Regions from separate parts of the Homo sapiens genome. Here region 2 is linked to region 1. Evidence: fine-mapped expression QTL. Tissue or cell type: whole blood. Region 1 holds a variant in brackets; the other region holds the start of a gene. All regions are shown on one strand. Distances are from middle to middle.

Region 1 (5,535 bases):
CCTACTTCACTCCTCACTTCACTTCTGAGGAAGGCTCTATTAGAACCCTCACTTTACAAATGGGGAGATAAAGCCCAGAGAGTTTGGATGATGATGTGGTTTGTCTCTGTGTCTCCACCCAAATCTCATCTTGAATTGTATTCCCATAATTCCCACCTGTTGTGGGAGGGACCCGGTGGGAGATAATTTGCATCATACTGTTCTCTTGGTGGTGAATAAGTCTCATGAGATCTGATGGTTTTATCAGAGGTTTCCACTTTTGCATCTCTTCATTTTCTCTTGCTGCTGCCATGTAAGAAATGCCTTTCATCTCCCACCATGATTCTGAGGCCTCCCCAGCCATGTGGAACTGTAAGTTCAATGAAACCTCTTTTACTTCCCAGTCCTGGGTGCGTCTTTATCAGCAGCATGAAAAGGGACTAACATAGTAAATTGGTACCAGGAGTGAGGTGTTGCTGAAAAGATACCTGAAAATGTGGAAGCGACTTTGTAACTAGCTAACAGGCAGAGATTGGAACAGCTTTGAGGGCTCAGAAGAAGACAGGAAAATGTGGGAAAGTTTCCAACTTCCTAGAGACTTGTTGAATGGCTTTGACAAAAATACTGATAATGATATAGACAATGAAATCCAGGCTGAGATGGTCTCAGATGGAGATGAGGAACTTCTTGGGAACTGGAGCAAAGGTGACTCTTTTTATGTTTTAGCAAAGAGACTACTGGTATTTTGCCCCTGCCCTAGAAATTTGTGGAACTTGGAACTTGAGAGAGATGATTTAGGGTATCTGGTGGAAGACATTTCTAAGCAGCAAGGCATTCAAGAGGTGACTTGGATGCTGCTAAAGGCATTCAGTTTTGAAAGGGAAGCAGAGCATAAAAGTTTGGAAAATTTGCAGCCTGACAATGCAATAGAAGAGAAAATCCCATTTCCTGAGGAGAAATTTGAGCTAGCTGCAGATATTTTCATGAGTAATGAGGAGCCAAATGTTAATCCCCAAGACAATGGGGAAAGTGTCACCAGGGCATGTCAGAGACCTTTGTGGCAGCCTCTCCCATTACAGACCCAGAGATCTAGCAGGAAAAAATGGTTTTTTGGGCAGGGCCCTGAGTACCTGTACTGTATGCAGCCTAGGGACTTGGTGCCCTGCGTCTCAGCTGCTCCAGCCATGGCTGAAAGAGGCCAACATAGAGCTTTGCAGTGGCTTCAGAGGGTGCAAGCCCCAAGCCTTGGCAGTTTCCACGTGGTGTTGAGCCTGCAGGTGCACAGAAGTCAAGAATTGAGGTTTGGGAACCTCTGCCTAGATTTCAGAAGATGTATGGACGCCTGGATGCCCAGGCAGAAGTTTGCTGCAGAGGCAGGGAACTCATGGAGAACCACCGCTAGGGCAGTGCAGAAGGGAAATGTGGGGTTGGAGCTCCCACGCAGTCCCTACTGGAGTACCACCTAGTGGAGCTGTGAGAAGAGGGCCACCGTCCTCCAGACCCCAGAATGGTAGATCCACCTACACCTTGCACTGTGTGCCTGGAAAAGCTGCAGACATTCAATGCCAGACTGTGAAAGCAGCCAGGAAGGAGGCTGTACCCTGCAAAGCCACAGGGGTGGAGCTGCCCAAGATTATGGGAACCCACCTCTTGCATCAGCATGACCTAGATGTGAGACCTGGAGTCAAAGGAGATAATTTTGGAGCTTTAAAATTTGACTGCCCTGCTGGATTTTGGACTTGCATGGGCCCTGTAACCCCTTTGTTTTGGCCAATTTCTCCCATTTGGAATGGCTGTGTTTACCCAATATCTGTACCCCCATTGTATCTAGGAAGTAACTAGCTTGCTTTTGATTTTGCAGGCTCATAGGCAGAAGGGACTTGCCTTGTCTCAAATGAGACTTTGGACTGTGGACTTTTGGGTTAATGCTGAAATGAGTTAAGACTTTGGGGGACTGTTGGGAAGGCATGATTGGTTTTGAAATGTGAGAACATGAGATTTGGAGGGGCCAGGGATGGAATGATATGGTTTGGCTCTGTGTCCCCACCCAAATCTCATCTTGAATTGTACTCCCATAATTCCCACGTGTTGCGGGGGGGACCCAGTGAGAGATCATTTGAATTTTGGGGTGGTTTCCCCATACTGTTCATGTAGTAGTGAATAAGTCTCACGAGACCTGATGGTTTTATCAGGGGTTTCTGCTTTTGCATTTCCTCATTTCTCTTGCCACTGCCATGTAAGAAGTGCCTTTGGTCTCCCACCATGATTCTGAGGCCTCCCCAGCCATGTGGAACTGTAAATACAATTAAACCTCTTTTTCTTCCCAGTCTCAGTTATGTCTTTATCAGCAGTGTGAAAATGGATGAATACAGATGACTTGCCTGAAGGTCATACAAACGCCCTGCTGCAGAAGGTCCCCCTTGACAGCCATGGCCCTCTGCCTGTAGCCCCCACTCTCTGCTTCATTTTCTCAGCTCTTCTGCAAGGCCACTGCAGCTCACATGGCTGTAAGCTTCCCAGGGCCTCTTCACGAGGCTGTAGGTCTCTCTTTATGTCTTGTCAGGGCTCTGAAGCACAGCAGCACCAATGAGAAGCTCTTGAGCTAAGGGGCTCTGGGAAGGGAAGGTCTTTGGCCAGTTTCCTGGAGACAAAGCCCAAGGGCAGAGTCTCTGTGCCTGTTCCTTTTCTCTGTTCTCTGTTCT[C/G]TCTCTGAGAGGCACTTTTGAACTTCTTTTAACCCTGCTGGTGGTGTAGACAATACACTAATCCCAGCTCATGTTTGGTGGGGGTGGAGGAAGAGAAGGCCCCCAAGGGAAGTGAAATAATCCACATAGCAAGCAGGCAGGACCTGTGTGCCGGGACCCAAGCAGCTGGAAATGTGAGGCTGTGCTGAGTGTTCTTGGGTTGGAGGCCACTCAGACTTGGAGGAAAGAGAGCTGCAGTGAACGTGAATGTGACAAACGTGCAGTGAATGTGACAAAGCTGAGTTCTAGACTTGGCTCTGCTACTGACCGGCAGCGTGACCTTGCCCGGTCATTTAACTCTATCAATTTTCTCATGTGCACAATGGGAGGAAAGTCTAATGCCCAGGATACAGTGGGATAAAATTATAATGCTGTGTCAAAAATAATATATCATCATAACAATGTGAATTTATGTGAATATGAACAACATGAAATTGCCAAATCGATTTGGATGGGAATTCTGGGCAATATAGGCTTGACTATAGTCTTTGGTCCCTGTTTAAAATGCATTCTTGGTCTTCCTTTACTAAAGCTGCTTTTTTAGCAGCTCTTTCTTGTCTTGCCTGAGCTAATGGGAGAAAGGTGGCATGTGTGAGCCACAATGTGGTCACCGTGATAAGGGATGCTGAGTGCCCAGGAGGGCAGACCCAGCAGGGGAGAGTTCTTCTCAGCTAGGCCTAGGGTAACTAACGGGCAAAGACTGACAAGGTGGACCGGCTGGAGATGGAGCGAGGGCAATTTCTCTGTGTCTCGTAGGAGAAGATAATGTGGATTGGCTGCCTCCACCTCATGCCTTTTGGCACTGCAGAAGCTTCATTTTTCAGAATTAGGACCCAGTGTTCTGAATGCCAATTAAGATGATTTAATTAGAAACTGTTGTAGGACATTGAGAGGGTGAAAGTGAGGCAGAGCTCACCTTCCTGTCCTTTTGTATATTTTCTGTGGAAAGCAAGGAGATGGGGCCAGGCGTTTCTCCACCACCGTGTCCTAGGCCCCTTCCCCACATTTGTGGGGTTGATGGCAGTGGCAGTGGTGTGTTCTCAAACTCAGAGCTCCTCCTGCCTCTCCAGCCCTCTGATGGTTGTGTAAGCAGCAGGATCCTGAATGAAATCCTTTGGCATCTGCTTAGAATAGCTAGAAGAGCTTCTGAGCCTACACTGAGCCTTGCTGGGGGGAATGGCCTGAGGTCTTTGCTGCTGCAAGGCAGGCTCCCTGCAGAGGCCTCTAAGGGGACAGCTCAGGAATGACACCCCACCTACCTTATCTCTCTCAATCCCTTCTGGAAGGGGTGGGGTGGGGTGATGAGGCACCTGGGGTGGGAGTTCCTGAAAGGAAGGGATGGCTTGTTAAAGAGGTACTGCTTAAAAAAAAAAAAACAACAACCCTGAAACCCTGGGGGTTTTTTTTCACTCTGCTTAACATGATTACCTCTTCCTGGCTTTAGGAATATCATTCATAGGCCCCTTTGCACAAGTAAAACAGGCTAGAGTATTGAAAGCCTAAGGGAAAAACAAACAAAAATGTCCCCCTACCCAAAGTCAGAAAAATTCAAATGCTCCAAATCCAGGGGTCCAAACTGAGATTCTGCTTCCCTGGCCTGCTGGAAGCCTCTGCCTGGAGTGTGTCCTGATCACTGCTAAGGTTCCCCCTCTTTCCTTCCTGTCCCTGCCCTCCCCTTCCAAGGCAGGATTCGGGAGGAGTGTTGTTTAATTGTCCCCAGGTAGACAGAGCAGTCTTGACCTTTCCTTAGCCGCCCACAGGCATGGAGGGAAACAGCTTTTCTAGCAAGAGAAGTGACAATAATGGTGACATTTGTTAGCATTCAATATGTGCCAGCCTTAAGTCATCATCTCACCCAGCCTTATGTCATCAGGCAAAGGTGAAGAGTTCCTTCTTACTGCATGCCTTCTAACTCTCCCTAAGTGAAAAAATAGCTTTCTTAATTTTAAATGAAAAAAAAGTGTTATTTAAAGCCAGTATTAGGGGAATTTTCTCTTTAAAATGGCATTTGACCAAGAGTCTTCTCATTTCCCTCTAAAATACATAATAACACACAGAAAAAGGCAAAACTGACAGCAGCAGCAGAAACCAAGACAGGTAGTAACTCAATTGCCAGAGAAATTTTACCGACTACCTGTAATAGTCATGGAGCTGAGGTCAGAAACATGATTTGAAGCAAGCACATGTCTTGCTTTTTGAAACAGAGCAACAATAAGAAATTGGTAAAAGGTCCTTTAGCCTTATCCTGCTTTTTGCACCATTGACTCAGAGACCTAGTGTCTGTATCAATCAGCAAACTAGACAGGGATCCCCTTTCTTCAAGGCATTGTGTTTTGAGATAGCTGTGTGTCCCCATCCTTACTCCAAGGGTGGACTCCATTCGGCTGGCATTGTACTGGACTACAAGGTATTTAGGACTCAGGAAACAAAAAAGCAGTAAAGAGAGGATGTTATCAGTTGCATCCCAAGAGGTCTGGTCCCACAAAGGAAGAGCAATAAGCAGGAATAGCAAACACAAGGAGAGCAATGCATTCTGGGACCTAAAGATGTTCACATACTTCAGGCAGCCTGGAACAGGAAACTCCCTACTAGACCCATAGAGCAGTATAGGATGAATGCAACTGAGCCAGTACTGTGTATATCAACCATAGTATATCACCAGCATCTAAGAGGACACTTATCCTTCAATTTTCCATGGCAGAGAGATCTTCCTACTTTCTATGTAAACTTAGGTAAGCTTTTTCATTCATCTATTTATTTATTCACAAATATATATTATAGGGTCAAGCAGCTATGGCAAAACGTGAAAGATTTT
Region 2 (5,535 bases), 23 kb before region 1:
TGAAGGAGTCTGGCAGACACCACTGGGATCTCAGGCAGCGCTGTTGATAGTCCAGAAATAGGTGCCTTCACCCTTCATTCCTGCTGTGCCCTCCTCTCTAAGGTCAGTTTTCAACAAACAGGAGGTAAAAGGCAGCAAATGGTGGCTCTGCACTCTACACATTGGGCCCCTAACACTGCACAGTTCAACACACACACACACACACACAAACACACACACCCCCACCATCATGAACTGGGTGTGGGCAACCGCTCCCTTCCTGTCTGCAGATCCCCTACCCACGGGGCGACTTGCTTGCCGGGTTGACATCAGCCACGCATGGCACAGGCTCCTCCTGGGCCAAAGCTGTTCTCCTGGCCCGGCCTCAGAGGAGGCACGTTCCGTGTGGCTTCTCCACCTTTGTGGTTGGTCTGCAGTGTTGTTAGTTGGCAGCTGGGGACCTATAAGAGGCTGACCCCAGGATCTGTGCAAAAGACATGAGAATGGGACATAGGAACAGAGGGTGAAAGTAGCAAAGAAACAACACAACATGGATGGAACAAGCCATTTGCAAGGTTGTGAGTTTGTTTAAGAGTTGCTATGATGGTGTAATATGTAATTAGACTTTCCAAAGTGAAAGAAAATGTGATTTATTTCAAAAAGATTGTGACCGTTTGAAGTAATGGAGACAAGAAGGAACCAAAGAACAGGAATCTGCTGGTAACCCCAGCACTGGCTTTTAGAGGGGTTCCTTGACCAGCCATGGGAATATTGGTTCTGTTCAGCTGGTAACCCCTGTGGCAGGGACAGGGACATCACGTTTGCACAGCTCCATGGCACTGTCCACTGGGATGCCTCATGCCTTCTCTTCTAATGCTAGGCCCACCCAGCAGCAGGAACCCCTGAAGCAGTATCTGTTCCTCCTGGAAGGGATAGGGCTCATTGAAAGCCACACATTGGCCCCAGCCTGCTCCATCAGATTCTTTGGAGTTAGTCTTGAGAACCTGGTCACCTCAGGAGGCATGGATCCAATCAGCTAAAGTTGGGGCCTGCTTGGTATTTTCTGACACCACTTCTGACACCAAATGTGTGCTTTTTCCTGACACCAGCCGATTCTCTGACACCCGCTGGGCATCCAACAATTCAAACAGATTCTAACACTAACTTCCAGAGTTAGCACAGATCTCACAGGGTAAGGCCTCAGTCCCACAAGACTGCCCCCCTTCAGATGCTAGCTACAAGTGAGGTAGTGACCCCACTTCTGCCTGGTCAACTACAAATTTGGGGGTTCTGGCTAGGCAAGGTGGCTCATGCCTGTAGTCCCAGCACTTTGGGAGGCTGAGGTGGGAGGATCACTTGAAGCCAGGAGTTCCAGACCAGCCTGGGGTATAAAAAGAGATCCCATCTCTACAAAAAAATAAAAATAAAAAATTAGCCAGGTATGTTGGCACACACCTGTAGTCCCAGTTATGCTGGGGTTATGCTGGATGTGACAGAGGCTGGGATGTTGGGGCTGAGAACTGAGGATCACTTGTGTCCAGGAGTTCAAGGCTGCATTGACTTATGATCGTACCACTGCACTCCAGCCTGAGTGACAGAGGGAGACCCTGTCTCAAACAAAAAATTAGGGGGTTTCTGCAACAACCTCTCAGTTTTCATAATTCACTAGAACAATTCACAGAACTCAGAAAAACACTGTACTTCCTATTCTTTTATTGTAAAGGACAAAAACAGCCTGATGAAGAGGTACACAGGGCAAGGCCCAGTGGGGTCCCAAGTGCAGGAGACTCTGTCTCTGTGGAGTCAGGGCATGACACCCTCCTGGCATGTGGATCACCAATCCCTAAGCTCCTTGAATCTCATTTTTTAAGAGTCGTTATAGCCCAGACCCCAGGCCATCTCCCATACCTGGAGGTCTGGGAGTAGGGAATGGGAGTGGGTGGCTGAAAGTCCCAGTCTTCCAAAGTCTAATCCCATGTTTGGTCTTTCTGGGACCAGCCTCCAGCCTGAAATTATCTAAGGGTCCACCCTGTGTCACCTCATTAGCATAAACCCAAGTGTAGTCCTAAGGGGCTTATTATGAATAACAAAAAACACTCCTGTCACCCAGGAAACTCTAAGCGTTTTAGGAGTTCTGTGTCAGGAACTGAGATGAAGACCAGATATATTTTTTACAGAGTTGTCCCTTGGTATCTGCAGGGGATTTGTTTCAGGACTCCCATGGGTACCAAAGTCCACAGATGCTCAAGTCCCTTGTACAAAATCATGTAGTATTTTTATATAACCTCCGCACATCCTCCTGTATACTATAATTCAGTTGTGAGTCCCCAAGTGGCTGGTCACCCCGCTTCCTCCTTTGACCTGCAAATATCGGCCGCACTGACCTGGCCCCTCTTTTACCTGACTCCTTTTACTTAAGAGGTTCTGAGGCTAGAATTAAAGGTCAGCCATAGTCATAAGGATGTTTTCTGTGCAAAGCTGAGACCCCCTTCCTAGGTGCCAGTCCCAGCCCCCAGAGAAGAAGAGGTGTGTTTGGGGTTATGCTGGATGCGGCAGAGGCTGGGATGATGGGGCTGAGAACTGACGGGAAGGTGCTAATGGGAAGAGGAAGAAAATAGGGCAGATGGGTATCTGGGAGCCTCTAGGGGAGGGGCCCACTGGGGCGGGTTTCTGCAGAGTCAGGCAGGGAGGGAGGAAGAGCTGGGAGGGTGGTCAGGAGCATATAAGTGTGGGTGTCTCAGCTTTGCTTCCACTGCCATTGGTCCACGGGACGGCCCTTCCAGGAGCCAGTGGCTGGGAGCAGTGCTGGAGGATCAAGGAAGCAGAGATGGACGGTGAGGCAGTCCGCTTCTGCACAGATAACCAGTGTGTCTCCCTGCACCCCCAAGGTGAGAAAACTGGGGCCCCAGCTCTTGCCCAGTGAGGGAGTAGCCTGCCTGTCCTTTGGCCCTCTGCCATAAGGCAGCTTATTGCTGTCTTATTGCTCTCCCCAGACCCTTGTCCTTGGGGATGCAGACCTGGCAAGAGAAAGGGGATGAACTTTGAATTCAGATGGTCCTGGCTTGGAATCCCGGCTCTGCACACTGAGCTGGTCCTGTGAGGCCTCCCTCCCTTCCTTTCTTCTTTCATTCAAACTACACTTTTGTTGCTCTGTGCTCTGTGCCAGGTTCTGTGCCCTGTGCACCACCAAAGCCTCCTTGAGATTTGGAGATCGGTGGTCTCGGTCTCAGAGCTCCTCAGCTCTGTGTTGCTACCATATCCACATCTAGCTCTGGTGAACAGCCCAAAGTGTTTTGTCTTCCTTCTCCATAACCACCTGCATGATAAGCATGGCAGGAGTTATCATCCCCATTAGACAACCCAGGAAACAGAATCAGAGAGGCTGTGTCTCAGCCTGCACAGCACCCTCTTACCTTGCACAGCACCCTCTCACCTTGGACACTGCCTTCTCCCCTGCAGAGGTGGACTCTGTGGCAATGGCTCCTGCAGCCCCCAAGATACCGAGGCTCGTTCAGGCTACCCCGGCATTTATGGCTGTGACCTTGGTCTTCTCTCTTGTGACTCTCTTTGTAGTGGGTAAGCCCCCAGGTGACCCAAATCTCACTAACTTTCTCTCCTTTCAGCACAAAGTCCCCAGGGGCCCCAGATGCACACTCTCTGGGCCTCTCTGCTCCCAGAAAGATCATTCCACCTCCAGCTCCAGGCCCAAGCCACAGCTTCCCTGGGAACAGATAAAGGCCACTGTCCAAGGGGGAGCCTCCCAAGAACTGAGGTTCATGAGGGAAACCCTGGGAGGGTCTTTGCTGCTATCTCCCCGGTTCTGGAACTCTACCTCTGTGTGGGACAGCGTATCCTCCCAGGCTCAGGGCTGGGGATTTGCTGACCTGGAAAAATGGAATGTCTCAGTTCAACAGCAGACAAGACCTGTTCCGAAGCCTGTGCAAGCCGTAATTCTGGGAGACAACATTACTGGGCATTTACCTTTTGAACCCAACAGTGAGTAGCCACAGTGGGGGTGGGGTGCAGAGGGAACTGGGGCCTTCAGATGCTCAGACCCTAGGATGAGCTTCTCTCCTGGTACCCTCTGACCACTGAATGGGCTCCACCATCCTCACAGAAAGAGATAATTTTTTAAAAACACAGTTTTATTGAGGTCTAATGGTGTATATATTTAAAGCATACAATCTGTTAAGTTTTGACATATGTGTGTGCCCCTGAAACCATCACCACAATCATCATCACATAGTCATCCTCCTCACCCCAAAGTTTCCTTGTGGCTCTTTGTAATTCCTTCCTCTCCCTTCCTCTCCTCATCCCTGGGCAGCCACAGATCTACTTGCTGTAACTATAGATTAGTTTGCTTTTTCTAGAGTTTTATAGATAAGAGATCATAGAGTATGTACTCTTTGTTCTTTGCTAGTCATGTGATTTGCAAATATTTTTCTCTCAGTCTGTGACTTGTCTTGTCATTCTCCTAACAAGATTTTAATTTTGATAGTCTAATTTATCATTTTATTTCTGTTATGGATTATTCTCATGATCTCGTATGTGAGAAATCTGCCTAATCCAAGGCTACAAAGATGTTCTCCTTTGTTTCTGGAAATTGTACAGTTTTTAGTTTTAGTTTTTGTTTTTGTTTTTTGACGGAGTCTCGCTCTGTCACCCAGGCTGGAGTGCAGTGGCGTGATCTCGGCTCACTGCAAGCTCTGCCTCCCAGGTTCATGCCATTCTCCTGCCTCAGCCTCTGGAGTAGCTAGGACTACAGGCGCCCGCCACCACGCCTGGCTAATTTTTTGTATTTTTAGTAGAGACGGAGTTTCACCGTGTTAGCCAGGATGGTCTCGATCCCCTGACCTCGTGATCTGCCCACCTCAGCCTCCCAAAGTGCTGGGATTACAGGCGTGAGCCACCATGCCCAGCCCGGTTTTTAGTTTTACATTTAGGTCTCTGCCTCATTTGAGTTAATTATTGTATAATGGTGTGAAATTGATTGTTCCAGCACCATTTGTTGAAAAAGTTATCTTTCTCCGTGAATTGCCTTTGCACCTTTGTTGAAATTCGATTGTCCATATGTGTGGGGGTCTACTTCCGTATTCTCCATTCTGTCGCATTGATTTGTTTGTCTATCTTTACAAAGCAGAATCTTTGACTGAACTCCCAGTACCTTGAAAGGTCCCCTCTCTTACCTTAGCACAGTAACTGAGGTCTCACACATCTACATAGGCAGTGCATGAGAAATAGTACATGGATGCTCCAGAAAGGGTCCCTGCCATCTTGGGTTTTTCTCCCTATTCCTGAGGGGAGACTGGAATCAGAAGGGGATCATGGATGTGTGAGATTAGGTCCTAGTTCATGAGGTGAACAAAGGATGCTAGCAGGACCAGAGGTAGATGCATGTGAGGTTGGTGGGAAAGACCTTGCAGATTAAAGGGGCTGTGGGGTCTCCTTCAACGACCCCAGCGCAAGGCCTTTTACTCAGGTTTCCTGTATCCTCAAACTGTTCTGTAGGGACCCTTGCCCTATGTAACACTGGGGGTGCTGGCTCTTTAAAAGGCC

The links. PIP is the estimated chance that this variant, and not a neighbour inherited with it, causes the effect.
Region 2: it holds the start of CLEC4F, and the variant in region 1 is fine-mapped to the expression of CLEC4F in whole blood (INTERVAL, PIP above 0.99).

The regions. Positions count from the first base shown.
Region 1 is chr2:70,794,816-70,800,350 of GRCh38, reverse strand. No RefSeq gene overlaps it. Among named protein-coding and RNA genes, the nearest start is that of FIGLA, 6.9 kb to the right of the region's middle. RefSeq lists an enhancer at 1-265. The variant C/G (reference allele first, on the strand shown) is at 2,682.
Region 2 is chr2:70,817,795-70,823,329 of GRCh38, reverse strand. CLEC4F (C-type lectin domain family 4 member F) reads left to right here and starts at 2,731. Exons shown (of 7, transcript NM_173535.3): 1 at 2,731-2,867; 2 at 3,439-3,555; 3 at 3,886-3,975. The coding sequence starts at 2,807.